Homo sapiens: one gene and its partners. The protein of the gene in region 5 purifies or fractionates together with the protein of the main gene of each other region. This does not show direct contact. Each region holds a gene or a part of one and is shown on either strand. Other genes may lie near its edges. The genes, in order: TOMM34, SLX9, SFXN1, LRPAP1, CABCOCO1 and CYRIB.

The links.
Region 1: the proteins of CABCOCO1 (region 5) and TOMM34 purify together in Homo sapiens (affinity purification with mass spectrometry; one large-scale study listed by BioGRID and IntAct). This does not show direct contact.
Region 2: the proteins of CABCOCO1 (region 5) and SLX9 purify together in Homo sapiens (affinity purification with mass spectrometry; one large-scale study listed by BioGRID and IntAct). This does not show direct contact.
Region 3: the proteins of CABCOCO1 (region 5) and SFXN1 purify together in Homo sapiens (affinity purification with mass spectrometry; one large-scale study listed by BioGRID and IntAct). This does not show direct contact.
Region 4: the proteins of CABCOCO1 (region 5) and LRPAP1 purify together in Homo sapiens (affinity purification with mass spectrometry; one large-scale study listed by BioGRID and IntAct). This does not show direct contact.
Region 6: the proteins of CABCOCO1 (region 5) and CYRIB purify together in Homo sapiens (affinity purification with mass spectrometry; one large-scale study listed by BioGRID and IntAct). This does not show direct contact.

Annotation. Positions count from the first base shown.
Region 1 is NC_000020.11:44,956,684-44,962,721, forward strand, and holds the start of TOMM34 (mitochondrial import receptor subunit TOM34), read right to left. Parts: upstream 3,715-6,038; 5' UTR 3,651-3,714; coding exon 3,524-3,650; intron 2,855-3,523; exon of another isoform or gene 1,654-2,854; intron 1,625-1,653; exon of another isoform or gene 1,610-1,624; coding exon of another isoform or gene 1,561-1,609; intron 1-1,560. UniProt on the Homo sapiens protein: Plays a role in the import of cytosolically synthesized preproteins into mitochondria. Binds the mature portion of precursor proteins. Interacts with cellular components, and possesses weak ATPase activity.
Region 2 is NC_000021.9:44,969,932-44,975,061, reverse strand, and holds part of SLX9 (ribosome biogenesis protein SLX9 homolog), read right to left. Parts: intron 1,866-5,130; coding exon 1,797-1,865; intron 1-1,796. UniProt on the Homo sapiens protein: May be involved in ribosome biogenesis.
Region 3 is NC_000005.10:175,526,901-175,530,242, forward strand, and holds the end of SFXN1 (sideroflexin-1), read left to right. Parts: 3' UTR 1-2,842; downstream 2,843-3,342. UniProt on the Homo sapiens protein: Amino acid transporter importing serine, an essential substrate of the mitochondrial branch of the one-carbon pathway, into mitochondria.
Region 4 is NC_000004.12:3,525,158-3,530,565, forward strand, and holds part of LRPAP1 (alpha-2-macroglobulin receptor-associated protein precursor), read right to left. Parts: intron 1-5,408. UniProt on the Homo sapiens protein: Molecular chaperone for LDL receptor-related proteins that may regulate their ligand binding activity along the secretory pathway.
Region 5 is NC_000010.11:61,762,021-61,767,266, reverse strand, and holds the end of CABCOCO1 (ciliary-associated calcium-binding coiled-coil protein 1), read right to left. Parts: intron 1,329-5,246; coding exon 1,254-1,328; 3' UTR 501-1,253; downstream 1-500.
Region 6 is NC_000008.11:129,851,778-129,857,185, forward strand, and holds part of CYRIB (CYFIP-related Rac1 interactor B), read right to left. Parts: intron 3,971-5,408; coding exon 3,834-3,970; intron 2,567-3,833; coding exon 2,489-2,566; intron 502-2,488; coding exon 385-501; intron 1-384. UniProt on the Homo sapiens protein: Negatively regulates RAC1 signaling and RAC1-driven cytoskeletal remodeling. Regulates chemotaxis, cell migration and epithelial polarization by controlling the polarity, plasticity, duration and extent of protrusions.

The DNA of each region.
Region 1 (6,038 bases), on a different chromosome or scaffold from region 5:
TCAAAGGGAACCAAGTATTTCCTCATTCACTCATTCCAGCACTGAACTTGATAACAGACAAAAGATAAACAAGAAATAGCTAGCTTCTGCCTCAAAGAAATCCATGCTGTAACTACTTGGGTTTGGGTGGATAAATGGATGGATAGGTGTGTATTTTATTACAAAAAGCATTTAAATCCAAGAAAGAAAGAAAAAAAAAAAAAGAAAAGAAAGGGAGGGAGGGAGGGAACAAGATGATAAACGTATGATAAATGGATTGACCAAAAGTTGTAGGGGCACAAAACACCCATGAAAGACATGAGACTAGTTTTACCTGGTCAAGCCAGGGAGGACTTTGTCAGGGAAATGATAATTGAGCTGGGTGTGATGGGAGTACAGAGAACTTAATCAGGAAAAAGTCTTAAGCTACCCCATGGGGAGAATTATTAGACATTCTTCTAAGGCAGTCCTTACCCTCAGGAATCGCAGAGGCTCAAGTCCTTCACTGTGGCCACCATGATCTTTATTTACGTATTTTTTTTTGAGACAGAGTCCTGCTCTGTTGCCCAGCCTGGAGTGCAGTGGAGCGATCTCCGCTCACTGCAACTCCACCTCCTGGGTTCAAGCAATTCTCCTGCCTCAGCCTCAGCCTCCTGAGTAGCTGGGATTACAGGCACTCGCCACCACGCCTGGTAGAGACAGGGTTTCACTATGTTGGCCAAGCTGGTCTTGAACTCCTGACCTCAGGCAATCCGCCTGCCTCGGCCTCCCAAAGTACTGGGATTACAGACGTGAGCCACCGTGCCCAACCAACAATGATCTTTATTTTTAAAGATAATTTTCAACCACTTCATACCCACTAGTGTCGGCCATTATTTTAAAAAGAATTGAAAACAGGGTCTCTTTTTGAAAATTTTGAAACATACAGAAGACCATTATCTCAGAATCCACCACTAGATTTAGCACGTTATATTAGTTCCCAACTTTTTTAATTTTTAGAGACAGCGTCTCCCTCTGTTGCCCAGGCTGAAGTGTAGTAGCACAATCATAGCTCACTGCAGCCTCAAACTCTTGGGCTCAAGTGATCTTCCCAGCTCAGCCTACCAAGCAGATAGGACTACAGGTGTGTACCCCCAAGCCCAGTTAATTTTTAAAGTTTTTGTAGAGACAGAGTCCCACTGTGTTGCCCAGGTTGGTCTTGAATGCCTAGCCTCAAGTGATCCTCCCGCTTTGGCCTCCCAAAGTGTTGGGATTATAGGCATGAGCTATGGCACCCAACCCTTAAAAATTTTTTTGATAAGCTAAAACTCCAGCCATCCCCATCCTTATCCCTGTGCTCCCTCCCCAGACTCACAGAGGCCAGTACAATCCTGAAGTTGGTATGTAACATTTTCAAGCATGTTCTACATTTACATATATATGTATATATGTATATGTATATATGTATACATGTACATGTATATATATGTATATGTATATATATGTGTGTGTGTGTGTGTGTGTTAACAGGAAAGATACCATTTTATGTCTATTAAAGCATTTCCTAAGAGGCATCATATTGCCTATCCTTCTGCAACTTACTTTTTTCACTCAGTATCCTGTTGCCATGTTGATATTTGATATCTTTCATTCAATACCAACAATAACAAGCGTTTTCCCCTCTTGTTTTGCCAGGCCCAGAGACGGAAAGTACAAAGACTAGTAAAATACATCCTTGCCCTTAAGGAGCTAAGTACCCAAAACCTGTAATCCATCTTGAGTCACCAGAGTACGGTTGCTCAGAAACAGCAGTGGTGCGGTGGAAAGGGCATCAACCCTGCGATCCGGACAAGTCACTCCATCCCTCTGATCATGCGTGCCCACCTACCACATGAGGATATCACTTCATAGACTTGCTGGAAGGGTTCATTGTGTTAGCCTGTTCCCTGAGCTCTCTTCGTGATCAAGAAGACTGATCAGATAAATCAAGAGACTTGCCCAAAATTACCTAGGAAATCTGTAGCAGCAGCAGAACCAAACTCCGGTCCTTGCTAAATCTAGATACCAGGCTAGCTTTTCTATGGACCCAGAATTAACCCATACAAATGTACAAGCTTTTCCAGACCAGCTGGGGTGAGATGAATGAAAATGGCAGCAACATCAATACCTCAGCTTCTTCAGCAACTTCATCAAGTAAGGCTGCCATGAGGAAGTGGGCCTAAAGGAGAGTTTTCTAGAACAAAGAAGGGGGCAAAGGAGTGGCTTGAAACTGCAAAAAGTGCAGACAAAAAAAAAAAAAAAAAGAATGAAATCTGGAGAGGATGTGAGGAGAGGTCTAGCAAAATGATTAAAAATTTGGACTTAGCATCAAAGTCAAACAGATCCATATTCAAATCGTGGCTCTTCCATGTCTTCACTATGTAACCCCGAGGGAGCCAATTTAACTCTCTTGGACTCCTCCTTTCTAAGCATTTTATCCACAGGGCCATAATAAAGATCAAAGGAGATCGTGTCTAAAATGTCTAGCACATGGTAAATCACTCAAGAGATGCTAGCCAAGAAAAGGAAAAAAAGGAAGGCGGCAAAGGGAAATAGGTACTGAACGGTGACTCACAGAAACCAGGATCCAAGGCTCCTTTCAAAAGTCAAGGCTTTAACCAATGAGGGTTTCTGATTAAGTCACCCTGGAGAAGGGGCTTTGGGCAAAGGTCTGCGGTATGCTGACGAAAGCTGGACGCTGGGAGAACTGGTAAGAATATGCTATTCTTCTGTTTCAAACTCTCCAGTAGCTTCCCATCCAGCAGCTTTCATGCCAAGCTTCCAGTTTGGCATGAAATCCGAACTCCTTAGCAGAGTTTACAACACCTCCACAATAAATAAGGGTCTGCCTTCCTAACTGACCTCATGTCTTCCTATTCCCTGCCCTGGCTCACTATGCTTTGACCCCTGAAACACACCATGTTTATATCGTCTTGGAGGGGGGGCCTTTCTCATTGCAGTTCACTTCAGGACCGAAAACCTTGTGCGCTTGGCTTCTCATCATTTAGACATCACCTCAAATATCACTTCTTTACAGATGTTGCCCTTGATCTCCCACTCCAGTCAACTCTATCACATCACCCTATTTGTCTTCTTCCTAACCCTGATTATCCCACAGGTCTCGTTTACTTACTGACTCGCTTAAGACTCACGTCCTCCCCACCGCCCCCACAAGAATGCGCTGTCCTTGAGAGAAGGGACTTTTTGTGTCTTGTTACACAGGCGGTATATAACAGCTACTCAACAAATACTAACTGAAAAATGAATTGCTGCGGGGGAGGAGGGTTTAGCTTTCTTCTCAGGGCTCAGAACGAGGCCTAAATAACTTAGGATGGGGGCCAACAGGGCAGTTAACAAGCAGGTGGAAAGAAAGGGCCGAGGAAGTTTCTGGTAGGATGCCGGAGTCGGAAGGGGCTGGAAGGGTGGGAGGGCCGGGCAGGACTGCTGGCCGCCGCGCGAGGCCCGGGCGGTGGTTGCGGGAGTTGGAGGAGCAGGCCCGGAGGTGAGATGGGGGCCGGGGTCGTACCTTGCGCCTGCAGCACCCGCAGCGCGCGGCCGTAGAGCGCGGAGGCCTCGGCGTACTGGCCGTTGCGGAAACTCTCATTGCCGGCGGCGCGGAGCTCCTCCACAGAGTCTGGGAATTTGGGGGCCATCCCGTGGCCAGGCCGGCGAGTTGGGAGCTCCTTCCTTCCTCCCCCGTGTGGTGCGGCACACCTTCCGGGCGCAAGCGCCGGCGGCGAATATCTCCGCCCAACAGCGAACCCGCGGCGAGGGGGCGGGGCCTGCGAGACCTGGAGGCCCGGAGCGTCCCGCCCTCTGCGCGTGCTCGGTTTGGAACTTAGGCTCCCTTGCACGCGGGGCGGCAGCATGCTCTGGGCTCCCTGAGTTGCTAGAACGCCGTGGATGACGCAGGGAAGGAGGCTGGCCCCGCTATCAGGGAGATTATGTCCTAGTGGGGTCCCCACAGGCAATTAACTGATAAGCAAACGAAGACTCTCATTTCATGTGATTAGTGCTGTAAGGAAAACAAAACAGGATAATGCAATGGAAAGTGACCACGTGTGGGCTATTTTAAATAAGGGGATGAAGGAAGGCCTTTCTCAGGGGGTAATAGTTGAGCTGAGACCAGACAAGATTTAGGGAATGCTGTTCCAGCCAGAGGGATGGTAAGTGCAAAGGTTCCAAGGCTAGAAAGTACCTGGTACCTAGTGCTCTATAGATATTTATTTAATAAATTAATGCACAGGTGGATTGATGGTGTCAAAGTCAACATATAGAGATGAATCTCTAAAGTTTAAATATTTTATTTGGCAATCAAGAATTGCAATTCAGGGCTTACACACAGACCAGGTTGTCTTTGGTATGTCAGAAGAACAAAGAGAAGGTTTGGAGATTTTTATAAAACAGAAATGTTACATATTGCTCTTCAAGGAAGTTTACAGGCACTAGTAAAGTGGGGGTTTATCAGCTTCTTGGGGAGCTGGCAAGCTTTGATTGGTAAGTGATAGTGGTGGATAAAACTCAGAATTGTAGCAGGCTGTTTCAGTAGCTATTAGATAAAACTGGTTTTAGGTTACAGCAGGCAGTTTTAGCAGCCAGGCTTGCAAAAAATTACTTTTTTGGAGCAATGTTATATGCCCTGAGTATTTGTTCCCCTGGCTTTTCAATTCTGTCTTAGTTGGATATGACAAGAATGACCCAATTCGTATGATCAGCTTTCAGAATGGATGAAGATCTTTCACAGAGTGTGACTTCAATTTATCTCCAGCCTCATCTGACGACTCTATGTCCCACGCATTGCTATCTACACACACTAAATTCTTGCTTCCTAGCCTTTGCTTGTTATCTCCTTCTCCTGGATTTTTTTTTCTAAATACTTTTTCTCCTGCCTAATCCTGAATTAACTTATAACATTCCATTCAAACATCATCTTCTCTGAAAGCCTTTCCTGCTTCCAGCCCCCTCCCCACCCCCCACTATGCTCCCTTTGCTCCCTATTGGTCTCTAGCTTTATCCCTAACTTTGCATTAGTCACCCTTTGATTGCCAGTTTGTAGTTTTCCTTAAACACTGCGAGGTCTTTAATGGCAGGAAGTGGGTCCTTTTTATCTTTGTTTATCCAAGACCCTAATAGGGTCTGGCATCCAATAAAAGTCATTGATTGATAAAGATCTAGTCTCTACCTTCAGGAATTCAGTTATAATGATCTGCATACACTTAACTCCACCAGACTATAAGCTTTCTGAGGGCTGGATGGCTGTTCCATCTGAAATGCTTCCCCTTGCCCTCTGCCCCGACCAAGGATGAACACTGACTGTGGTGGGAAAACCAGATGAGGCCCATGCTGCTGGCTGGCTACTCAGTGACTTCCATCTTTGCTTCCAGGAGCCTGAATTTTGCCTGAGACTCTCCCAGCCTGGGGAAGTGAATCAGGATTGCTCTAAGCCAATTAGAAAAATGTCATTTTCTCTTGCCAGTGATTCATCAAGGGATGCACATGTGATGCTGATCTGGGCAATGAGATAAAAGGGAGTCTGAGGCTGGTCGCAGTGGCTCACATCTGTAGTCCTAGCACTTTGGGAGGCCGAGGCGGGTGGATCACAAGGCAGGAAATCGAGACCATCCTGGCTAACACAGTGAAACCCCATCTCTACTAATAATACAAAAAATTAGCTGGGGTGGTGGCACGCACCTGTAGTCCCAGCTACTCAGGAGGCTGAGGCAGGAGAATAGCTTGAACCCGGGAGGTGGAGGTTGCAGTGAGCTGAGATTGCACTGCTGCACTCCAGCCTGGGCGACAGAGCAACACTCCGTCTCAAAAAAAAAAAAAAAAAAAAAAAAGAGTCTGCTGAGTGTTTATGGGAAAGGTTTCCCTCCCCATAACAGAGAGGTACTGGGTCAAGTAGCCATTCTTGCTCTTTTTCTGCTTTGGGTAGTGCTGGGTTAAGGATATGATACCTGGAGGTGTGGCAGTCATTTTGCAACCATGAGGCAATAAACACAAGTATGAAAAGCCAACATGCTGAGTAGGATGGGAGGGGA
Region 2 (5,130 bases), on a different chromosome or scaffold from region 5:
CCTGCTCTCCTCTCAGAAGCAGCGAGAAACCAAACTCCATCTTTGATGAAACCAGGAGACCCGTTAACCTGAGCTGCTTCAAAATGCCGCGACCGCAAGGACATGGGGGCACCGAGGGGTGCGGGCGACAGACAGTCTGCAAGAGGAAAACCCGTCGCCCTGTCCAGGCAGGGAGGGGCTCCCCGGACCAGGCTGTGCACTGGGGAGAGGCGGAGAGGGAGGCCAGGCAGGACGATGGCCACACGGAGAGGGCTCTGCTGTTCGCAAACTGTCTCCAGACAAGACTGGCCTGGGAAGAACTCAGTTCATAAACAGAGAAGCAGAAACCAAAGAGGACAAACACAAAGATCTACGGGAAGACCCTGCTCCTCAGGAGGCCGAGGCAGGAGGATCGCTGCAGCCCAGGAGGCGGAGGCTGCAGTGAGCCTTGATCACACCTCTGCACTCCAGCCTGGGCCACAGAGCAAGGAACTGTCTCTAAAAAATAAAAATAAAAACTTTTTAAAAAACTAAAAAAGACAGTTTACTATACTATCTATACTTCACCTAGACCCTACAAAGTGTCTAGAGTAAAAATGGATTAGAGAACATGAGATGGAAGACAGATAGATTAGAGAGATCCAGTAAGTGCATAATTGGTGCCCCTGAAGAAGGGCCGAGACAATAAAGAAATCTTTGGAGCTACCATTCGACACCAGCTTCCCAACATAACTGTACTCACAAAACAGACAGCAGCTTCTAAGCATAATCGAACTCACAAAACAGACTTCAGACTCTCAACTGGAAAGGCACAATGGGCCTCGGTAGAACTGACACAAAACGCTCCCACTGATAAACACCTGAGTAAAGCCATTTCAAACCACAGGAAAAATCATCCCAGCAGCTAACTAAAACCATCTTACAAGGGCGTAAAATGTGGCTCTCTCAGTGGAAACTGGAGCTGAGTCTGCAAAGAGGCAAGAGAGCGTGCGTGGTCTGGAGATTTTTGTACCCAAGAGGACAACTGAGTACAAATTTCTGCAAATCAGTGTCCTAGCCCTGCTAACTGGGGGCCGCAGTGCCCAGTCACAGAACCAAACGTATCATCCAGATTTCAACCAGCCAGCGGAGGGGAGGGGCGGAGATGGGGCTGCGTCCACCCATCATTTTAGATCCATGACTCCCCTTGGAAGCCTTCCTGGGAGGCGGGACTTGACCCAGGGCCACAGGACCTGACTGCACTGAAAAGCCCCCCTGGAGCAGACAGGCAGGAGCCAGCGGAGCAGCGTGGAGGGGACTAGAGGCACGGGCGGGGCTCTCAGCCGCTGAACCCCTGGGAGGGCAGGCTGGAGGCACTCAGGACCCCTGGAGAGGGCGGGGTGGGGGCACACAGGAGCTGAACCCCTGGAGAGGGTGGGCGGGGCGAGGGCACATAGGAGCTGAACCCCTGGAGAGGGTGGGCGGGGTGAGGGCACTCAGGAGCTGAATCCCTGGAGAGGGTGGGCGGGGCGAGGGCACATAGGAGCTGAACCCCTGGAGAGGGTGGGCGGGGTGAGGGCACTCAGGAGCTGAATCCCTGGAGAGGGTGGGCGGGGTGAGGGCACTCAGGAGCTGAACCCCTGGAGAGGGTGGGCGGGGTGAGGGCACATAGGAGCTGAACCCCTGGAGAGGGTGGGCGGGGTGAGGGCACTCAGGAGCTGAACCCCTGGAGAGGGTGGGCGGGGTGAGGGCACATAGGAGCTGAACCCCTGGAGAGGGTGGGCAGGGTGAGGGCACTCAGGAGCTGAACCCCTGAGGAGGTGGGCAGGTGCACTCACAGAAGCTGCTGTCTCTGGGCTGCGCTCATCCGGCTGAGCTCTGAGGGCCGGGGCTTGTTGCTCTCCCTGCTGTGGACACAGAGAAGCCACGTGAGTCAGCATCCAGCATCCCCTAAACACCTTCCCGTGGGCAGAGGCTGGCTCCTCCCTTCTTAGAGCAGACGTCGTGGTGGCCAGAGGTGACCAAACCACTGCAGAACCACAAGTTCCAAGCTGCACTGTGGCCATGGAGGCGAGACCTGGACAAGCAGTGCAACTGCCTGACCGTCCTGTGACCGCCCCGGACAAGCAGTGCAACTGCCTGACCGTCCTGTGACCGCGGGCCCCAAGCTGCTCCGTGTGGAATCTGGTGACTCCTGCAGCTCCTCCTGGCTCCATGGGACATGGAGGGAGTGGTCAGCCAGGAACACGTCTCACGATATACAGCGTCTCCACCCCACCTGCCTGGCCAGGGCAGGCTGCGCAGACACCTCACACTTCGGGCCAAAGGACCCTGGCAGGCACAGCCAGTCCCACTCCCGCAGTACACACCACTTCCCAGGAAGGCTGAGTCACCCACCCAAGCCTACATGTCCCCAGGTCCTCTCTTTAGAAGAAGGCGCACGCTGTGCTACAGTGGGAAGCTGCACCTGCCCTCCTGATGACTGAACTTGGGGACAGGGGCGTGGACCCACCGTAGATCCTGCCCTGCCTGCACCTGCGGGGGGTGCCAACGAGCACTGCAGTCCCCCATGGACAGGTGGAGGAACTGAGGAGGTTTCCTGAGTGCTGCTGGCTATTTCCTTTAGTCCTGGGATCTCCAAACCACCAAGCTGGGCCTTGACTAAGGGCACGGGCGGGCCAGGACACTCTCATCTCTGACGTCCACCCCAGGCAGGCTCCGGCTGCCCGCGGAGCTTCTCACCCTCAGTTAACCGTGGGAATCTTCGGGAGCTCGCCTGCACTCCTTGTGGTCAGCCGGCCAAGGCAGCCGCCCACCTGGCCGAATGTTCACATGGGACAGCGACCTGGGCCTTAAAAGGAACAGAGAACCCGCAAGGCCACACCAGGCGCCTTCTCAGATCTGCCGTCCACACAGTGAGATGGGACCCAGACGACGGCGGGAAGGCAGAGACGCAGAGTCCTCAGACCAGCCCTACACTTAGCCTCGGGCCAGGAGACTTCATCTTTTATTCATGGATCTCTTAAAATATGAATGACAGACATTTTGTGTCTGCCCAAAATAGCCCTCAGCACCCGCTTTCTTTTAACCCTAGCTCTGCGCTGATCTGGGGAAGGAATCAGTCCCCATCCCTTCCTGCTCACACTGGCAGATGACAGCCCCTCGCATCTCCCGTCCCCTCTGCCCGCTCAAAGCCACAGCTCCATTCATTGCAGGGGCTCTGCCGGGGCTGACGACATCTCCCCACGGCCTCTCCTGGGCCAGCCTTGCCCCGATGCAGAAGCTCTGCCCCCCTGGCCAGCCGACCCCCTCCCTGTGTCCACCCCTGAGCAGCAGCTCCCTCACTGACTGCCCAGAGCTGTCCCCGGTCCCCATCCTTGCAGAAGCCATCAGCGTGGGGCCCCTCCTCTAGGTGCACCCTGGTGCCAGGGCTCTGGGCAGCCACGTGCTGGGTCAGGAGACCTGAGCCCGGGTCCAGGACATCCTTCCTGGTTGGGGAAACCTCGGGCCCTGGAGCTGCACCCTCACTTTAAGAGATGAACTAGCAGTGGGGGTGGGACCAATGCCTCCCAAGGTCCCAAAGCAGAGGAGCTGCACCCAGGGTGGCTGCAGTGCCCATGAGGCCAGGCGCGGCACCTCCCCTCCCCACTGCGGGGACCGTCCCCCACCCACGCGTCCCACACCCCATCCTCCCAGGCGGGACGCACAGCCTACCCAGTGGGGTTTCCGGAGTTCAGGGCCCCGGGGACAGAGTGCTGGGCGGTTACCGTCATGGGCCAAGGGCAAGCACCGGCAGGGACGCGACTCCACGAGGCCTAACAGCAGGAAGCCGAGGAGGAATTGGAGCCTAACTCCGCCCAGTGTGGACCCTCACCAGCCCCCACGGCACTCCCTCCAGGCAGGAGCAGCGGCGTCACCACCACTCCCCTCCCGACAATCACCCACAAAGCGCACACAGGAGGCGGAGGTCCACAGCATGGGGGGTCCCCTCCCGACAACTGCCCACAAAGCGCACACAGGAGGTGGAGGTCCAGAGCATGGGGGTCACCGGAGTCAAGTGTCGCTCGATGCCTGCTTCCCAGCCAGGAGTGACGTGGACCCCAAACACGGGCCCTGCCCTGGCCTCTGAGATTCCAGCTCTGCATCCTGCACCCCAGGGGCATGAGGCCCTCAGGGCAGGGCGCCAGGACAGGGGATTGAGGGAGCTGGGTTGGGAGGGGACTGAGGGGACTGAGGGTTGGGAGGGGCCGTGGGGCAAGGACCCAATGCTTGGGTTCCACAAGGACAGCTCTGCCAGCCCAAGCCATATGTTCTCCCCACTAGGTGGGAAGGGGAGAAGTGAGAGACAGAGCTCCAGGCTGGGAGGGAGAGGCTGTCCACCCTCCAGCCTCCCAGGCCACTGGTGCTCGCCTGCTGACCCCTCAAGCCCAAAGCACATCAGAGTCCAAGAGTGGTGGTCAGTGGGGCAGACCTGCCTGCCGGGACCAAGATGCAGTTCCCAGAGACACGGCCCGCCGCCCAGGCACGCCAAACCCCAGATCCTGGGACAGGCGCACCGAGCCCCAGATCTCAGGGTCTCACACCTCCTGCAATACAGGGGCCAGGGCTCCCTAGAGAAACAGCAGGACTGGCAGGAGATGTCCAAGATGCGCCTGGGTTACCTGTTGGTGCTCGGCAGTGGGAAAGAGCTAAAAATACGACCCCCACGTCAATGGGGCCAAAGGGAGCTGGGGGCAACTGCAAGAACTCCCAGCGGCCAATGCTGGAACAGTTTCGGCACCAAAATCAAGTAACGCTGTGTGTAAACTAAACATCCATCTGTCCAGACCAACACCGGCGCATGAGCGACACATACACGGGGAGAAGAGACAAAGCTCCTTTCCCAGCAGGATTCCAAACAGTCTCTGTCACTGCTGTGTCTTCCAGGAGGTAGAGCACAACCCCCACCCCGAGGCCAGGGCTGCAGAGCGACTTCCTCCCAAAGCGGACAGCATGGAGGGGGGGTCTCAACCCAGCAGGGGCCAGCTCAGCCTCACGGTGAGTCAGGTGACAGGGTGTGCCCAATACAGTGGAGTGACAGTGGCACTTCGCCTCTGGGGGCTTCCTCCCCAAACCCAGTCCCTTCCTGTACCCATTAGAAAAACATCAGACAGATCTTCAGCTGACAGGCAG
Region 3 (3,342 bases), on a different chromosome or scaffold from region 5:
GGGCCAAGTGCCTGATACTCCCTTACACTGAATCATGTTATGATTTATAGAAATACCTTTCCTGTAGCTTTTATAGTCATTGTTTTTCAAAGACGATATACCAGCCCTCACCCAGGTTTTAAAAAAGCACTGGTAGGCATAGAATAGGTGCTCAGTATATGGTCAGTAAATGTTCTATTGATTATCAATCAGTGAAAAAAGAAATCTGTTTAAAATACTGAATTTTCATCTCACTCCCATTGCAAATCAAGGAGATCTCAGCAGTGAACTGGGAAAATACAAAAGCTCTGGGCTAATCTATAAAAACTTACCCTGAAATATTAAGGGCAGTTTGCTTCTAGTTTGGGGATTGCGCTAGCCCAATGAAGGTGATGAAGCTTTTGGATTTGGAGGGTAAAAGCTCCTTCACACCCCTTCCAAAAGTCAGTCACAGACCACTGCAACATGCCTTCCCTGCTGGATCATTATATACATTCAGATTGTGAGTGGATTGCCTTGGTTGACTTTTAATTTATTGTTTTTTGTTCTTATAAAGATGATAATCTTACCTTGCAGTTATTGACTTTATATTCAATTATTTACATCAAATAATGAAATAACTGAAATGTACAAATGTCAAATTTTGGAAGTATATTCAATACCAATGCTGTATGAGTGGGCTGAATCCAGTTCATTGTTTTTTTTTTGGTAAGAAGTGAGACTACAGTTCCAGCTACCTACATGTCTTTTCTTGTCATCCTTATAGATCTCTTTGGCTTTCAGAAAGATACAGTGATAATGTGTGTATGAATCAGTCACAATGAATTTTACTTGAATATTGTATGTTGCATTCCACTTCATTTGAAAATAATGAAACCATGTACCACTGTTTACATCATCTGTAGTGATTTCATAGATAATATATTTAATATGACAGATTATGTTTCAACTCTGTAGATGTTTAACGTCATAGACAGTTGGCCCTCTGTATCCGTGAGCTCTATATCTGTGAATTCAACCAAGTTTGGATGGAAAATTTTTTTTTTTTTTTTTTTTTTGAGACGGAGTCTCGCTCTGTCACCCAGGCTGGAGTGCAGTGGCGTAGTCTCGGCTCACTGCAAGCTCCGCCTCCCGGGTTCACGCCGTTCTCCTGCCTCAGCCTCTCTGAGAAGCTGGGACTACAGGCGCCCGCCACCACGCCCGGCTAATTTTTTTGTATTTTTAGTAGAGACGGGGTTTCACTGTGGTCTCGATCTCCTGACCTCGTGATCCGCCCGCCTTGGCCTCCCAAGGTGCTGGGATTACAAGCGTGAGCCACCGCACCCGGCCTGAAAATATTTTCTAAAAAGATAAAAAATATACATAACGATGAAAAATAATACAAATTTAAAAACCAATACAGTATAACAACTATTTACATAGTGCTTACATTGTATTAGGTGTTATAAGCAATCTAGAGATGATTTAGCAAGTATACAGGAGGATGTGCCTAGGTTATATGCAAATACTGTGCCATTTTATATCAGGAACTTGAGCATCTGCAGATATTGGTATCGGAGGGCGGTCCTGGAACCAAGCATCCACGGATACTGAGGGGTGACATTTCATGAAGTGTAGATCATTGTATTCAGAGATTGTAAATGAAAAAAATATAGAAACTATTTAGTTTTGGTAGATTTTTTTTCTGACAATGTGACCAGACTGAATTTCCTCATAAAGAAAAAATGGCGTGCCTTGTGTCTGTGTTTCTCTTTTCTCTGAAAGGATTAATAGATCTGAAGCTTTGGGCCACTCAGAGCCTTCCTTGATGCTGCCAGAGTCTTCTTATTTAGATTTTCTGTCTTAAACCATTGGAAGCAAAACGGTTTTCCCATGACATTCTGGCCTTGGACAGATTCTGTTGTCCTCGACGCGTCTCTTTATAAAGTGGTAAAAGCCTGAAATTCAGGGCAGCTCTCCATGAGGTGCTGAAGGGCTCTTTTCATAAGAAGCTAAGGCACTGCTGCCTGCCCCAGGTGTCCCGCTCCTCTCAGAGTCCTCCCCCTACCAGGTAGTGTGTAGCTCCATTTCAGAATGTTAACCTCCAGTGAAGAGCTAATGACTGGTTAGAAGATTGACAAACTAACCAAAATTTTACACACTCCGGTTATGTGTGTGAAAGGTTATAAAAGGAATGGCCGGGTGCGGTGGCTCACCCCTGTAATCCCAGCACTTTGGGAGGCCGAGGCGGGTGGATCACCTGAGGTCAGGAGTTTGAGACCAGCCTGGCCAACATGGAGAAACCCCGCCTCTACTAAAAATACAAAAAATTAGCCAGGCATGGAGGCACATGCCTATAATCCCAGCTACTCGGGAGGCTGAGGTAGGAGAATCGCTTGAATCCGGGAGCTGGAGGTTGCAGTGAGCCAAGATCGCACCATTGCACTCCAGCCTGGGCAACAAGAGCGAAACTCCATCTCAAAAAAAAAAAAAAGAGATTATAAAAGGGATGATGAACATGGAGCTGCATCTTTTTAAACGTTGTTTTTTGATGCTTCAGACTCTTAATGCTTTTATATAAAGCTATCAACTGTATGTTGATCACAGTTTATAAGAAAGAACAAATCAAGATTGGCAATCCTTGCCGATCTTTTAGAAATACCTTTTCTGGAGAAAAAAAAATCCACATGAAGTGCAATAAGCTTATAAAGCTAAGTAGTTATTAATATTTCTATTAACATGATACAAAGGATGATGATTGTAAGTGTTTACTGACTGGCAGCTTTTATTTCAGTATTAGCACAGCGTCTTGCCAGTGTTGGAGGCCATGTATTATTTCAGTTCAACTGGATGAAATGTTAAATAAACTCAGAATGAAAATAAATTCTCTCTTTTATTTGTACATAAAGGATAAAGCAGTTTGTGTGTTACAACTGATGGTACTTTTCATTCAAAGTTAATATCTACAGTACCATCAGCAACTCCTAATGAAAAGATATTTTTGTATTATGCCTTTAACAAGAAATATATTTCTATTTTGGGCTACCAGTCTCCCACCTTTTTGAACCTCATATACATAAAGGCACACCCACCCACCCCCCAAACTCCTATGACAATGTGATTCCAGGAATATTAATGATGGGCGTGGGGGATGGATTTCAGCTTGAAACTTGGATGGCCAACACCTCTGCACATGACGGTGATGGAAACATGCTTCTATATTATTGATCTGATTCTAACCTGGCACTGGCATTTACTAACAGAGAAAGTCTAAATTAACCTAAGTTTGGGGAGTGCCTTAATAAAAGACTTGATACAGAGCTGAGCATTTTAACTTCCTTGGCCATGTTTCTGCATTTGTTTTGCTACAGTAACTCTGTTGTC
Region 4 (5,408 bases), on a different chromosome or scaffold from region 5:
GGAAGAGGTGGAGTCAGGGTCACTGTCAGCAGGATTCAAACCCCACAGGTTTAGACAAGAACTCAACATGGACACCAGTCTCTAGGCCTGTCTGTATACACGATCCGGAAACCCCAAGTCCATCGGGGGCTCCCCACCAGCAGCGGCTGCTCATTCCTGTCCGGCTGTAACAGGACACCCCACCCTAGCACCTGAGGACAGTCATCGGGCACTCGGATAAACAGAGCAGGAAGAAGATACCCACTGCATTACCATTGCAGATACATATTGCAAGGACACAGACACCTAGAAGTTCTTTTTTAAAAAAAATCACTGTAATCTCAGATCTGCCCCATCTTCATTTCCCAAAGACCCTCAGTCACCACCTCTCAAGTGTACCATGATCCGAACTGTCTTGCTGAGACGGTTCTTACACAGCCCCAGATCCTTCTGGAGCAGGAATCTGTCACCCTCTCACTTACCTGCTGGCGTAGACCACACAGGCAGCGCCCCGGAACGAGCTGCCGCACTGGGGCTGAGGAACTTCCCCGCCCCACCCTCATCCCTCTCCGCAGGGCAGGCCACGCTTCATTCATCCCACCCCTGCCCTCCCAGCTCTGGGACCCTGGGTGAGAGAAGGAAGCAAGTGAGGTGACCGCTGGGCACACTGCTTTTTGGTTGCAAAGACAGGATTTAGGCCAAGAGTGTCCCCACGTCAGAAAGACTGGGCCAGAATGCCAGGCGGCCGAGGCAAGCAGCAGAATGAAACCCACCGGCCAGCTCTCATCAACTCTGGCCTCGGGGCTGGCCCGGCCGCTAAGAGGCGTGCGCTGGGGCAGGCTAGCCCTTCAGGGAAGCGAAGGCTCTTCCGTGCAGAGCAGAGTGGCCCAGCTGTGTGAACCAGAACGTGTCATGAGGTGGGACCAGGGTTCACGGAGACAGGGTGCTGTCCCTGGCTAACTGGGGAGGCTGCACCGCATGCCTGTAGTGACGCCAGCGCATTAAAGCCTCTGTGGAGTCCTGCAGCAAAGGAAGTGCTCGGCACTGTGCAGTGCAGATCCCCAAATCTCTCGGCTCTCAGGAGGGTCCCCTTCCCTGAGCACCTGCATTCTCACATTCCCCCGGGGCTGGTCCTCATGAGCTGCCCGTGGCTCTAGGAGGGAACCCCAGCTCCTGCCTCTGAGCTCCAGGTGCCCATCACCTAACGCCTGTCTCTGATCATGTGTGTTTAAATATGGAGTCTGTTTTCCCTTAGACGTTTGAAATATTAATCTTTTATCTATATTTCATTAGCTATTTTCTAACATAAATACAACACAAGCTAGTATCCAAAGTATGTGTGTTATATTTCAATAAAGTTTACGTAAAACAGTGAACATCCCCACGAAGCGTCAAGAGCCGGCTGCCTTCCCAGTGTCCCGCAGCCCGCGCCGCCTTGTGGCCCACACTGCCTTGCAGCCCGAGACCTCAGGAGGCCCAGCCCTCAGGTCCGCGCCGCGCAGGGGCACACGTTTCTTTCAAGACTCGCACGAAGCCAATTCTGTGTGTTTGGCACACCCCACACTCCGGAACCTCCTCGCCTCACTCTGCCTGTATCTAGACTGAGCCCATCCTGCTCCCTGCAGCTCAGTCTGTGTTGGGCCTGGGAGGAAGGAGACCCCTGACCACAGGCCCTGTCTCCAGCTGGGTGCTGGGGCTGTCAGCTCCGCCCTCTCTTCTCTCAGAAGCCCAGCCTGACTCTGTGGCTGCCCTAGCCACACAGGCCCCACCCTCCAGGAGTTTAAAATTTAGTTAGGGATGAATTCAGATTACTGAGCCAAGATCCCCAATGGTAAAAAGATAGCAAACGGTAGGCACAAAATGAATGGCAGGGCCTAGGGCAGAGGAAAGCTTCTAATTCTCTAGAAGGTTCTCTAACCCTTAGTGGGTGGTCCCAGGACAGTCTTTTGTCTGGGCCCTCCTGGTAGATGCTCTGCGCCCCCATCTCTGCAGGGGCTGCTTTCCAGGATTGTCCCAACCTGAAAACCCTTTCCCTGGCAGCCTTCGACACACCCCTACCTGTGTGCCTCTTCCCCAGCCAGCCCCATCCACCCAGCCAGCCCCATCCACCCAGCCCCTTCTCCCCAGAGCTCCACCCCGTGCCCCTCTGTGCCCTGGACACTTGCCTGCGGCGTCCACTGGAAGGCCCTAGGAGACCTGAGGTCTGATCTGAGCATTCCCAGCAGGAGGACCCAGGACAATGAGGCACCTGAGTGACGCTGAACTCTCAGGAGGGGCAGTCGGTGCCTCAGGAGGAGGGGGAGCCCACACCTGCCTATCTTGTTTGTGACCCAAACTCCTGGAGGAACAGGTCTGCTTCCATCTCTACTTCCCCGTGGCTGCTGCTACCCTGTAGGCGCCTTACTTACCGTGCTGCACTGCCCGGGAGGGTCTGAGATGCGAGGCCCACAGTGATGGTCTGAGCCAGAAGCAGCACCCTGGGGCAGGCAATTCAGGCCCATGCTCTCAAGTGTGTGCTGGCCTTGAGGGGCCCCGGGTCTGCCCTCTTTGGCTGCAGGGGAGAGGATGCAGGTGTCCCATGACTGCCCATGGGCTGCCTGCTGGAAAGCGGAGCTGAAGACCCAGGGCTGCTGAAGTCCTGGGCCCATCCTGGCAGGCTCACAGCCAGGCACCAACCCCTGTAACTTGCAGTCCTCACTGGCTTCCTGTCTGCCTCCCTAGGGTGCTGGGAGAATCAAGGGCAGGTGCTCTGTGGGCTGTAAAATCTGCAACCCACAGGGGAAAGTCATTTTCTCCCTCTGATTCCCCAACTCTCAGGCAACAGGGGGTCTAAATTTCACACCGCATGTCTCACAAAAGCCAGCTCCCTTTCCCCTGATGTGTGGCTGCCAGTGCTCAGCGCAGAAGGGGCCAGCCTGGCAGCACCACCACAAAAAGCAGCCCCAGCTCTGTGCAGAGGAAGACCAGCAGGTCACGTGCAGACCCCAGACCCCACGTCTGGATTCTTTCACCTCTCTCAAGTTAAATGTTAACGCATCAAGTTAGAAGTACCCTGTGGAAACCAACTGCAGAAAAGAACCTGTCAAACATGAAGCAGCGAGGCAAATCATCAACAACCAGGGTATACATGCAGGCAAGAAAGCCGGCTCAGCTGATCAAACGACGCCGGTCCTGTGTCCCCAGACACAAGCAGAGCCGACCGTGTCCTCCTGACCAGACCCAAGGGCCCAGCACTGCTTGGGACCTCAGCAGTGGCCCTTCCCCACACAGCACCACCCGCGTGCCAGCAGAGCTTTCTGGAACTTTCCAATAACCTGCTGCTGCTTCTCAACGCCCCAGGAAACCCAGGCCAGGGTCCACAGCTACACCACTGGTGTCAACCTGCACACACCGCACAGTTCAGGCTGGGCAGGTTCCAATGCCACCAGGACCGCCAATGGACCACCTCTTCAGAGGGCATGTGCCATCCTCCCAGCGCTCACCTGAGTGCCCGCGCCAGACTGCAAGGCACCCACCATGAGGAGCAGGCTGTGGCGGTGACCAAGGCTTCCTGGCACGCTGTACCTGTCTCACCACGGCAGGTGGCATGCACTGTCCCAGCCCAGCCACTGTGCCCCAGCTCCTTCCACCTGAGCTCCGTGGACAAGGGCACAGCCGTACCCGCCTTGAGCTGCTGTGAGGTCATGCATTGGCCTGGCGAGTCCTAGGTGCCCATGGAGGCCACTGGCTGGCCCATCCTCAGAGGCCCTTCTCAAGCCAGGGGGGACGCTTGAGAGCTGGGGTGGGGCTCTGAGGGCTCCTCTCTGCAGACCTCAGTTTCCACTCGTCAGACCTCTGAGAACAAGATGCTTCACACACTCTCATTGCAGTCACCATTCACGTCAGAACTAAGGACTGTCTGCGTGCGGTGCCTCCTGGGACTACACCTGTAATCCCAACACTTTAGGAGGCAGAGGCGGGAGGATCACTTGAGCCCAGGAGTTCGAGACCAGCCTGGCCAACATGGTGAAACCCCGTCTCTACTAAAAATATAAAAATTAGCCAGGCATGGTGGTGCATGCCTGTAATCCCAGCTACTCAGGAGGCTGAGGCACGAGAATCGCTTGAACCTGGGAGGCGGAGGTTGCAGTGAGCCGAGATCACGCCACTGCACCCCAGCCTCGGCGACAGAGTGAGACTCTGTCTCAAAAAAAACAAAAAAACAAAAAACCAAAAAAACTAAGGACCTATGGCCAAGGACTCCGAGCTCATGGCACCGTGCAGCCCAGGCCAAGAGGTACACGAGTGTGTCCCTGAGCGCCGCAGCTGGACCATGCAGACCCTGGAGCTTACTCCTCAGCATCAACACAACACACAGAGCTCTGAAGAGGCAGAGTCCTCAGAAGTCGTCTGTGAGCACAAGGGCTCTGCATGGCCTCTGACCTCCAAAGCTCCAGGGACAGCCTCTGCTCAGGAGTCTTGCAACACAGTGGAGCCCGCCTGTGAAAGAGGAACTGGGAGAGTCACAGAAAGTCAAGATTCAAGTTGCTGGAGAGGATGAAGCAGCACCCCCCTGGCCGGGTCTCGCCTGATGAAAGCGGGTCTCAGCATCTTCTTGGCGGCAACCTCAACGCAGGTCTCACAGCCCAAGCCCATCAAAGGCAAAGGTTTCCTGAAACGCTCCCTTCACCCTATGCCTACTGACACACTACGCAATCCTATATGCCAGGATGTGGCTTTACATGCAGAAAACAGGGACACGATGTTTTCATGAAGCAAACCAAAGAAAGGACAAGACCGTCCTGGCTGCTGAGCGCAGGTCGCAGGAGGCTGAGAGCAGTGGCTGCAGAGCCGGGCAGGAAGTGCTTCTCTGAAAAAGCAGCCCTCACCTCAATTATCTTCCAGGGGGCGATCCAAGACCCCGTCTCCGTCTGATACCTACCTAGAGCGGCGAGTCAGGTGGGGTAAGAAGCCGACTGGAGTGACTATTTGCACGAACAATTCTCTCCCCCTACGTTTGAACTGACTGTGGCTCCTCCTGCCTCCTGACCACCCTGGGCCCTGGCACGCTCGGCAGAAAGAGCCACAGCACAAAGACCACCCGGGATGCACTACCGCCACTGAGAACCTCAAAAAGACCCGGACGGGTCTGACGCCTGCACACTTGGCTCCAGGATAGAACACCCTCACAGCACCGCCACCCTCCAAGCTTCCGTTATCTGGAAGGAAAATCAGGACGAATGGGCTCTGCAGGCCTGCCTGCCATAGTACCAGGCTCTCTGGAATGGGGGAAGACACACAAAATCCCCCAAAACACCCTCACCCCCGAAGAACTTCACGTTCTGTTCAGCAAAAAAGACTTGCCCACACAACTAGAACTTCAGGACTTAAAGGGACCAGAAAGATCATCTAGTCCAAGGCTCAGTCCAAAGTGGAGGTGAGCAGCTCGC
Region 5 (5,246 bases):
GCAGCCATCAACGTTTTCATTCAGGAAGGACAGCTCAGAGAAGAAACACATCTCCAGACCTTTTAGTTGTGGAACTACAGGAACAATAAACATTGTTTTACCTCAAGGGGTACTCTTACTTTGCTGATCAGTGTAGTTAGAAAATTACCAAATGCTGTCAGATCTGCCTGTGCCCCCAGTGAATATAGTTTGGGCAGTTTCTTTGAACTGATGGAGAAAGTAGGGTTAAAGCTGATATCCAATCAAGTGTCACCCAGATCCAAGTACTGTATAGCCTGGAAAATTTTTGAAGAAACTGCTACCTCCTAGCAATGCTCTCCATTCCAGTAAACTCTGAAGTATAAGAACTTTGGAAAAGAGTTCGGTAGTAATTAATTAATTTGTCCAACTGGGGACAATCAGCTGGCAAATTGATATTTTTCTTTTGAAATTATATTTTAATAAAGGTATTTAAAGACTTGAGATTTTTAAAAATCATTCCACTTCAATATAATGGCTAATTCTGGGAACTCTATGAGTTTGATTTGTATTTAAGATTTTTACAATCTATATATAGGTTGGTCTTTAATAACCATTTATACATTGCTTCTTTTTATATAGGTCATGTATTCTCCTGGGAGAGTAACAAGATTAGAAATAACAAATACAGTACAGAATAAATTAAAGTGCTTCAAACTGCATTATATAATTTCAGAAAATTGGTTTCACACTGAAACGTTTAAATAAGAAAACCAAATGATTTCAGTAAAAAAAAAAAAAACCTCATATATGCATTTGAATTGCTATTGTTTAACAAATTTTATCCTCAATAGTGTGGTACTGGTATGTTTTCACAGTGTTCCAGTAACGTGGCAGTCCGTTTGGGTCAAAATGGATGAAGTTATTATCATCTTTCTTTATTTCTGGTTATTTAAAAAGTTGACTTCATTCTCCTTGAAGATGAATAGGATTTATTAGTCAAAACGTCAAAGGACTATCATAAAAGTAATTGTATTTTTATATATAATTTTTCAAACTCTTGTATACAAAATGTTCTCATTACACTTGGTGCAATAAATTCAGAGGCTGTTATGGGATGGGAGATAGCAAAATTGGGACCAATACTTTTCTAATTACTTAGGAAAATAAAAAGTGGGGCTTGGTTTTCCTTTCACAACTAAGTGATGGAGACACGACGCTCCAGAGAGTCTGTTATTCTGGCTGGTTTTGTTTGTTTCTGTGAAGTTTAGCATCACTCTCCTTGTACCAAGTCCTTAGGCCTTTTTCAATTTTTCTATTCGTGCATTAAAGGCCTCTTCCTGTATTTGCAGTTTTTCGTTTATCTCGGTCTGTGAAGACAATCATAAAAAACGTGGTTATGATGGAGCTATCTTTTGCTGCACATTGTCTTTGTGGTTTTGACATACTATAGTGCCTAAAGACAGATATTATCCCTCACACACCTTCCTGTTTTGCAGACATAGCTGTGTTTCAGCCTGTAGTGATGTGATAACACTTTATCATATTTCTCTGCACATTTCCAATGTATAGCATGTCTGCTATGAACAGGAAGTGGTATTTGGACAGCCATTTTTCACAAAGCCTTGTGTTGGAAGATAGGATAATTTATCTGTATTTTCAGACAGACTTTACCAATAAGCACTGAATCAGAATAACTGCTTTGGGCTCAGTTATTGCAGTGCTGTGGGTCCCTCCACCATCTGCAATGGATGTCTGTGTCTCCCGTGTAATACATTCTAAATGAGATCCCAGGAAGCTTCTGTTGTGAAATAACAACACAAATAACCTTACAATTAGAACAACTCCCATAATTAAGAGTATTCATCATACATTAGAACTCTTGGAATGATGCCACTTTCTGATATATTTTTGGTAAAAAAAGTAAGCAATTGCTCTCAGGTTTTGTGATTGCCGAGGTGGTGATAGCATTTTGCCTCTGGCAGCGATCTTCTGTGGACTCACATTGCTACCTGCACAATTCCATAAATACGTTCACATTAACTGAACATTAGTAGCCCTGGAAATGTCTTCCCTTTTTCACAAGGGATAATAAAATTACATACAGAAAAAGCAGTGGTGGTTGACGTGGCAAAATTGATGTTTTTGTTGTTGTTTAGGTGATTTTTAAAATGTCTACCGCTGTATAAGGAGTAGCTTATACACATATGTGTTAATAAATTCAAAGTTTGGATTTCTAATAGCTATAACATTATTTGAGGGCTTCAGGGTAACTGTACTTTGCAAACCTTTTATTATTTTAATTTAGATAGAAGACATTTAAAAAAATCAAATACTGTTTTAAGCCCAGATATAATTTTTCATATTTATTTACAAGAGTGTAACTATAACAGATAGTTGTGACATGTCCATGCTGCCTTATCTGATGAGATTTGATTTCACCTCACAGTAAGATTTGATATTTCTGGAAAGATCGTATGTGTGCCAACAATTCTGGGTTCAGAACTCACATAAGTATCAGTCTTTTCTGGTTCAAGCTTTAGTAAACCTTGGGATCAAGCTCCGGCCTCTGGTTTCTTATCTTTTCCTTTCTTGGTGGTTGGGTGGAGGAGGCAAGGAGGGATGGAGCGGTCCTCCAGGTCACAGAGGAACTCTTCCTTTAGGATGCACTGACTCTAAAGAAATCATCATCTATGCATGATTTTAGGTAGGGTCGAAAGAAGCACTGATCTTGGACTGGGAAGATCTAGGTACTAGTTCAGCTACGTCACCTTAGGTAAGTCATTTCACCACCTGGATTTTAGCTCTTACCTTAAAAATTAAGTAGGGGAATAGGATTATGTTAATATCAAACTTTAGTTTTTGAATTCATAATTCCAACTTCCAATTTTGTGATATACTTCACCAATGTTATCTTTCATTGTTATGATGTCATGAAATACTTAAAAATCTGTTACTCCTGCCTTATTAAAATAAATTTATGGGATACAACATATTGGACCACATAGGGATTAAAATGGTTTGAAATAATTTTACCACAATTTCAAAGGATTGGGAAGAATTGCGCCACTCAAACAATCGATTCTTCCCACTTTCAATTAATGTCCCTCTATGCCCACCAGTAATCTCATTTCTTTTCAGCTAAGGATTGATGTGCTTATCATCTACCAGTTTCTGTTTCACTACCACATAGGGATTTTACATTCACTTGGAGGCCTTTCTGGTATTTTACCGAGACAGAATTTATCAAAACAAGTGTAGGCCTTGGGAAAAGGTTCATGAAGGGGCAGCTAAGAGAGTGGCATACTGACAGAGGTGAGTAATGTCTCAGATCTCCAGACCTTAGGCTTAGTACTTTAGTTCAGTCACAACCAGCAGAGTTTGGATCTAAAGGCTCCACGTCTAGTCAATAACAGGCTGTCATTAGCCGTGTTTCCTTGTCATTCTTCAGAACTTTGCTGAACAGACAAGCAATCCTGCAAATACTATGGTTGGGTCTGGTTCTTTTTTTTTTTTTTAAGGAAAAAAAATATGTTCAGTAGTCTCTCATTGACCACTTCTTTGAGATGATTTCATGCTCAGCTTTTCTAACCTGGAAAATTCAAGTTGACCTAAAAACATCTAGGGTCCCAAGATGGCAAACTTCCCTCAAAGTTTTTATATTATATTACCCTATTGCTTCCACAGGGCCAACAGCCAACATGTAATGTAAGAATTTAGTGTTAGCATTCATATTTCTCTGAAATGTAATTCTTTAAATATATTTAAGTTTGCTCCCTTGGGTATAATTTTTATTACACAACTCAGGGCCAAAATAATTTCATTTTGAATGTATCTTTAAAATTAAAATACCTAAACTATACAGGCTTAAAATGTTTGCTCTATTCAGTATAATTTTAATTAACATCTCAGGGCCAAGATAACTTCATTCTTAATAAATCTCTAAAACCATAAAGTGAGTCAATGGGAAAATAAGTGAATTAACATAAAAAACTTATGGATTCATACTACATTTTCAGAAATTTCTGTATTAGAGAAGGTAAAATATGCCTGAAACCACATAGAAAAGGAATTTTGAAAACAACTGTACTTAAAACATGAATTATTTACTGCCTTTTTTTTGCAAAAATTGTAATAACAGTATGACTTTTAAACAAAGTAGGAGAAAAAAATCTGTGAGAAAATTTAAAACATCTTACGAGTAGTGATTCATTAAATATTCCTACAGCAGGTCGGTGTGTTCAAATAGCATATATACACTGACCACTGACACATAGCTACCTTTGAAAAGGGATATGGCAGTTCTTAGAGCCAGGAACACTGGAAGGCAGGTTTTAGAAGTGGAAAATAACCTACACATCTAAAATAGGAGGAGGAATTTAGGTAAGCAGAGAGTAATTACCCAACTTGGAATTTGACCAAGACACAAGGGTAAACGTGGAAAAAGTGCCACACCACGGGAGTATTAAAATCCAGAGTAGTCTGGTTGTGATATTAGAAGTTATGTGGTTTTTGTGGATAACGCTGGAATTAGAACTAGAACCCAGGTCACAGCTCCCATTCAGGGTCTTTTATCAGTTGTCAACCCTGGGAACTCTGGACAAATAACTTAAGTCTTTCTGTGTCCCATTTTTCAATTTATCAGGGGAAGTGCCTGCCTAACTCACATGGAGTTTACTAGGATTACTGATAGAAAATACATAAAGGGGTTTGCCATCTTGAGCCATTGTATAAATCCACATCATCATGCTATTTCATTGAAAAATTGGCAGTAATTTGGCCCAGGCTGATGTCTACAAATCCACTTACTATGGAAATGATTGTGGCACCTAGCGGTTCTGCATCCCTGTCCTCTGGTCCACATCCTCTCCATGCCTAATTACATTTAGGTGAGCAAGCTATTGAACTTCCAGGATGGCTTCAGGCCAATGGGAAGATAACATACAGACACATAGCTATCATATAGAATAGGGGTATAAATGCTGCAGACTGTAATATTTAAAATAATTTCAATGAATAGTTAAAACATACTGTTCACTGCATGGAACACAGCTTTGGTAAAGACGTTTTCAATTTTTTGGGCCTGCAAACAATTCAGTTACTGTCTGGTAGTTCCTCGGCAATAATTTCAGAGCTGTAGGATTGCAAAGGAGCCCAGAGCCATGATTATACATAAACTATATTTAGATGAAATGTTATCAGATCTAAAAAGGAGATATGTTCTGAACTCAGCTTAATTCAACTGCTCTCTGCCCTTCTACACAATAACCAGTTATTACATTCATGGA
Region 6 (5,408 bases), on a different chromosome or scaffold from region 5:
AGCCTGGGCAACAAGAGTGAAACTCTGTCTCAAAAAAAAAAGAAAGGAATTTAGGATGACATAAGTTGTAAGTTTTTGCCTGCACTGGTACTGTTAATTGAGAAAGCAAAAACTAAAGAAAGGGCAGGGTTAGAAAACGCAACCCAGAGTTTGGTTTGGCCATGCCATCAGCTATCACTGAGGTTTCCACCATCCCTCCAGAGAAACTGCAAATACGTGGACAGGTGTGCACATGTGGGCCTCAGAAAAAAGTCAGGACTCAACACATACATCTGGGAGTCTGTTGGTTTCAAGATGGTATTTAATGTCTTGGGCTTGCTGACATCACGTCTGCCAACAGGGGCATAAATAACAACACAGAGTACCTGCCTAGGCAATGCTTACCTCTGATACAAATTTTGTTGTGGCATCACTCAAGGTTTTCAGCATTGGAGTTGCCTCAGCATAAAACAAAGACATTCGATTTGCCAATTCATTATTTACTTCATTTTCTCCTTCTGCCTGTGGGGAAGGTAAAAGCACTGGATGTTAGTTCACAAATTATTACATATAATAACAATTATACAAGGACCCAGGCAGGGTGCCTGCCTCAATTACATTTTAGACTCTCATGTATCGATAATACTCAAATATTCTTTTTAAAAAAAAGTTATTTTTTTTAAAAAAAGATTAACCTCTTCAAAAATATTTTAAATGATATTAAAGAATTTAAATAAAACCTTGATGAACTGTCTACTACATACAAGAGATTCTAAATGTTATGGAGGACAGAAAAATGATTATAAAATTGTACCGTCCTCCATTATGAACAATAAGTATCCATACAACATCCATGGTAAGATTCTAACAGGTGATAACACAAAAAGGGAGTCAGAGAACATTAAGTTGGAACAGAAGAAACTAAGGAGAAGAGTTATCCTTTTGCAGGTCATATTGGGCAGGTAAACAAGGTATTCCAATCTGGCAGGGGAAAGAGTATGTTTTCAAATGACTCCCTAAAGAGTAATTCAGCATATTCAGTGTAATAAGGGGCTGCAACCAACGAAAGATACAGGTTGGGGTCAGACTGTATAGTGCCATAAATGCTAGCTTAAGTTCATATTTTTCTTCCATGTGGAATGGGGAGCCATTCAGTGTGTTAGATGAAAGGAATGACAACTAAGTCAGTTTCCTAAAGAAAATTAACTGATAATCGTGGGCAGATTGTACCAAAATGGAAAAAGACTTGTAGGTCCGAAAATGAGTTATGCTGTGCAGAGTGACTGCCAGAAAGAGTGGGAATTAGGCTCTCTGTTGGAACAGTGGGAGGAGGAGATGGAAAGGGGGATGGAGAAGACATTTCAGAGATATTTCACTTGAAAAAAATTGGATTTTACCTGTAATTATTGAGGGTAAAAGGGAGAACCAAGATGACTAATGTCTTTAGCCTTAAGTGATGGCAAGGATGGGTATAGTATAGGATTGGCTGCTTTGCTTTTTGCTTTTATCTTATTTTACATGGTAGGTATGAAAAAGACAGATGTTAAGGTCAGTCTCACACGAGGAACTGGTCTATGCAAAAATCAAATTGATGCAAATTACAGATGTTTCATAAAGAGGAATCTTTTCCTCCAACTCAGTGCCTTAGTGCAAGTGCTTCCTAAAATATTTTTTCAAGGAAAAAGAAAATGAATGATAGTCTTTGATATATATATTTTAAATATCTTATGCCACTTATTACTCCTTACATAGTTACAGTATTTCTCTATTAAACTATCTATTTGAAACAAGGGTTGATCTTTGAAATTTTTCAGACCAATTATAAGGTTCTCAGAAACACAGAGAACAAGTTAATATTTTCTTCCGCTCTAGTTTTACTTATGGTATTTAGTTCCTTGGAGGTAGAAAAGAGTAATAAACAGCTTAAGAGGAGGATGGTAAGAAGTTAAGAGACCTAAAGAAGCCAGAAGAAATGCTATACTAGCCAAGGAGCAGGCACAAAGCCATTTTCTCAAACAGCTATATCAGGCACAGATGTGTTAACAGGCCATGACCTCACTATCACCTCTTGCCAGCATTAACCATTAATTTCTTGGAGGAAAACGGACTTGGGTTCAAGATTTCTCTCCAAGAAATTAACCCACGTCAATTTCTCTCCAAGACTCTTCCATTCTAAGAATATAGAGACAAAAAACTCGTAACTATGAATTCACAGAATTTCTGTACAGTTAAAATGAGAGTACATCGCGAAATTTTATAAGGATCAACGTTATACAGATAAGCAATTTTGTTGAAGTAGTTGTGGGAATTTAAGAGACTGTGAAGAAAAACAGGTAAACACCATATGGTTTGTTACAGTTTGCTTTTCCTCCTACAGCTATGGCTGCCCATAATTACTAACTTTATTACTAGCTTTAACACTATCTGAATGAACAAACAAAATAATAAAATGAACAGGCTGAGCACTAAGTTACTCTTACCATCCCCCTAATTCAAAGCATTAACTTACCGGTACATTGTTAATCCTCATACGACTCAATGTTCTTCTATAATAGCTGAAATCATTCTGTATGGCAGGATTTGTCATCTGAAGAAGACAGTTGTGGAAAAAAAATGTTATGTACTAAATGCTAATGTAAAAAAACTAAGTAAAAAATCTTTAGTTTTAATTAGTATAAAACATTCCATAATTCATAGTATCATTTTAAGAACTAGCACTGGTATAATCCAAGGTGGCTTATAACTGTATTTAGTCCTTACTGAACATATAAAACGAAAGACCACAGGCAGTATACTTTCCCTTTTCTTTTCAGTTAATTTCAGGTAATGTACTAAAAGCTTGTTTATCAAATAAACAAAAACAAAAAGGACTGTTTAGGCACTTGTTTTTAGTTATTACGATAAAAGTATGTAGGTATGGTCAACAGAGCAATCCTCAAACTAGAATTTTACATACAAATCTGACTGTGATACAACTATAAAATGCTGAAGTTTGGAATCCAGCTCTTCCATTTTCTAGACAGGGTACCAGAGGCCCTGAAAAATCAAAGGACGTGCCCAACGTCTCATGACTAGGGTTACTGTGGCAGAGTATAAACTGGAACTCAGGTCTCTTGATATGAGACCTAGTGCTTATTCCTTTACATTCATTCTTTTTAACAACAAGGTATTTATAGTTCCAAACACTATAAACAATGACAGAGGAAAAAAGAAACAGAAAGAAAGGAAGAAAGCGGGAAAGGAGGAAGGGAGAAAAAAGAAATTTTAGCAACATTTTAATATAAAAGAATGTTGAAAAACGGGGGTAGAGGGTGTGAGCAGAAAAGAAAAAGTATTAGAAAAAAAGCTCAACCTTTTGTTTCGGAGATTAATTTTTAAACAAGGTTAAATGAAGACTGCTGAGACATGTGGATCACCTGAGGTCAGGAGTTCGAGATCAGCCTGGCCAACATGGTGAAACCCCGTCTCTACTAAAAATACAAAAATTAGCCAGGCGTGGTGGCACATGCCTGTAATCCCAGCTACTTGGGAGGTTGAGGTGGGAGAATCACTTGAGCCCAGGAGGGAGAGGTTGCAGTGAGCTGAGATCACGCCACTGCACTCTACCCTGAGTGACAAAGCAAGGCTCTGCCTCAAAAAAAAAAAAAAAAGATTGAGACCGAATACTCAGTAATTTGCTCTTTGCCATGTATCAAAAGACCCGTCATTAATTTCTAAATCCAGCTTTGCATTTTTATTAAGGTCTAGCAGACATCATTTAAATACATTTTAACAATGTTTCCCGGCTCTTCCTCCTAGTACTCATTAAAAGATTCATGATTTTCGTAACAATCAGGGCCAATAGATAATTCTACCTTGAGTTCATCAAACCGGAGTGTGAAATGAAGAATTTCTGCAAACTGTTTAGCAAGAGCCTGCTCTCGCTCTAGATGCTGGGTGGGAGAATATGGGGTACTTGTTAAGGCTCCCAGAAGACCTCTTAATGCTGCTTCTAAAGAAAAAAATTGAAAAAAACATTAAGTTGTTTGTATCTGTGTGATATTTGTTTATTAAAAAGTGAACAATTCATAAATGTTAATTCCCAGAAAAGTTCTCTTTAAAAAACAGATGATCTAAACATAATAAAACTAATTAAGAAGTTTAAATGTTGCCATTGCTAATGTACTACACACATTCTGAATACTATTTAACAGAATAAAAACCTTAAACGGACTAATTCAAGGGTTTATAATTCTGTAAACCCAGATTGAAAATAGTGCAGAAGTGAATTTGAATTCAACACCAAAGGGCAAGTTTTATATTACTTTAATCACTTCACACAGTGTGGAATTTGGTTTTATGAAATGGTAACTATTATCTACAGCTGAGTAACTTTCTTCAATGGCACTGTGTCCACACTGTCTGTATATGCCTATGAATCAATTACCAATTTCTCATACTTTGAATACATCCTTTATTTATAACCACAAACTGTTTGCTTTCAGCTACTAAAGAGAACAAAATATGTGGTTCAATAAGCTTCTTGTCTTAGAACTTGACATTTCAAGACTACAATATAAATATTCTAATTCATTATGTGAGCAAAATGGTCCCTTTGAAATAAGTGCTACTTTTGGGATGCCAGGCTAATAAATACCATGTTTGATAATGGAAATACTAAATACTAATACTAATATTAAATACTAAATACTAATATTTCATTTCAATATTTCAAAAAGCCATAGAAATCAAATGAATTCAGTTACAGATCACAGAACTGGAAAATGCTGCTAGATTCTGGTCAGAGAAAATAAGAGCTTACAGAGTTAAACTATGATCTGATGTTAATAAATGTCAGATTAACAAACAAATATTAATGATAAATTTAAAACTTTATGTCAGGTCATCAGCCCGTAACTTTAAAAAAACCCCAGTTTTCCTATTTATGAAGATTTACGTATGAGTCAACATCTACTGTACACTGAATATAGTCTCCCATTTGATTTTTACCATCAACTATGACATGGTCATTCCAGATGGATCAAATGAGTTTCAAAGAACTTAGAGCCCAAAGTTATAGCTAGTAAATGCTAGGTATTTCTGACTCCAAAGCCCTATTCTTTCTACCACAATAAACTGTCTCTGAAATAAAGCAACATTGTACGTAGCCTCTGTAACTTTATAAAACATTAACCTCCTGATTACTACCAATAGTACCAATTACTTCTGTAACCCTACAAAACATTAATCTACTGATTAAAAACAATAGTAGGTACTTCCTGTGTGTCTGTCAGATACCAGGTACTGAACTATTTCTTCACAGACATTATTTCTCATCCATGTAATAACTCTAAATGACAGCTATTATCCTTTTTTTTCCAGTAAGTCTGAAAATGTACTGACTGGCTACTCTGTGCCAAGCACTGGGAAAATGGATGTAGACAGACATG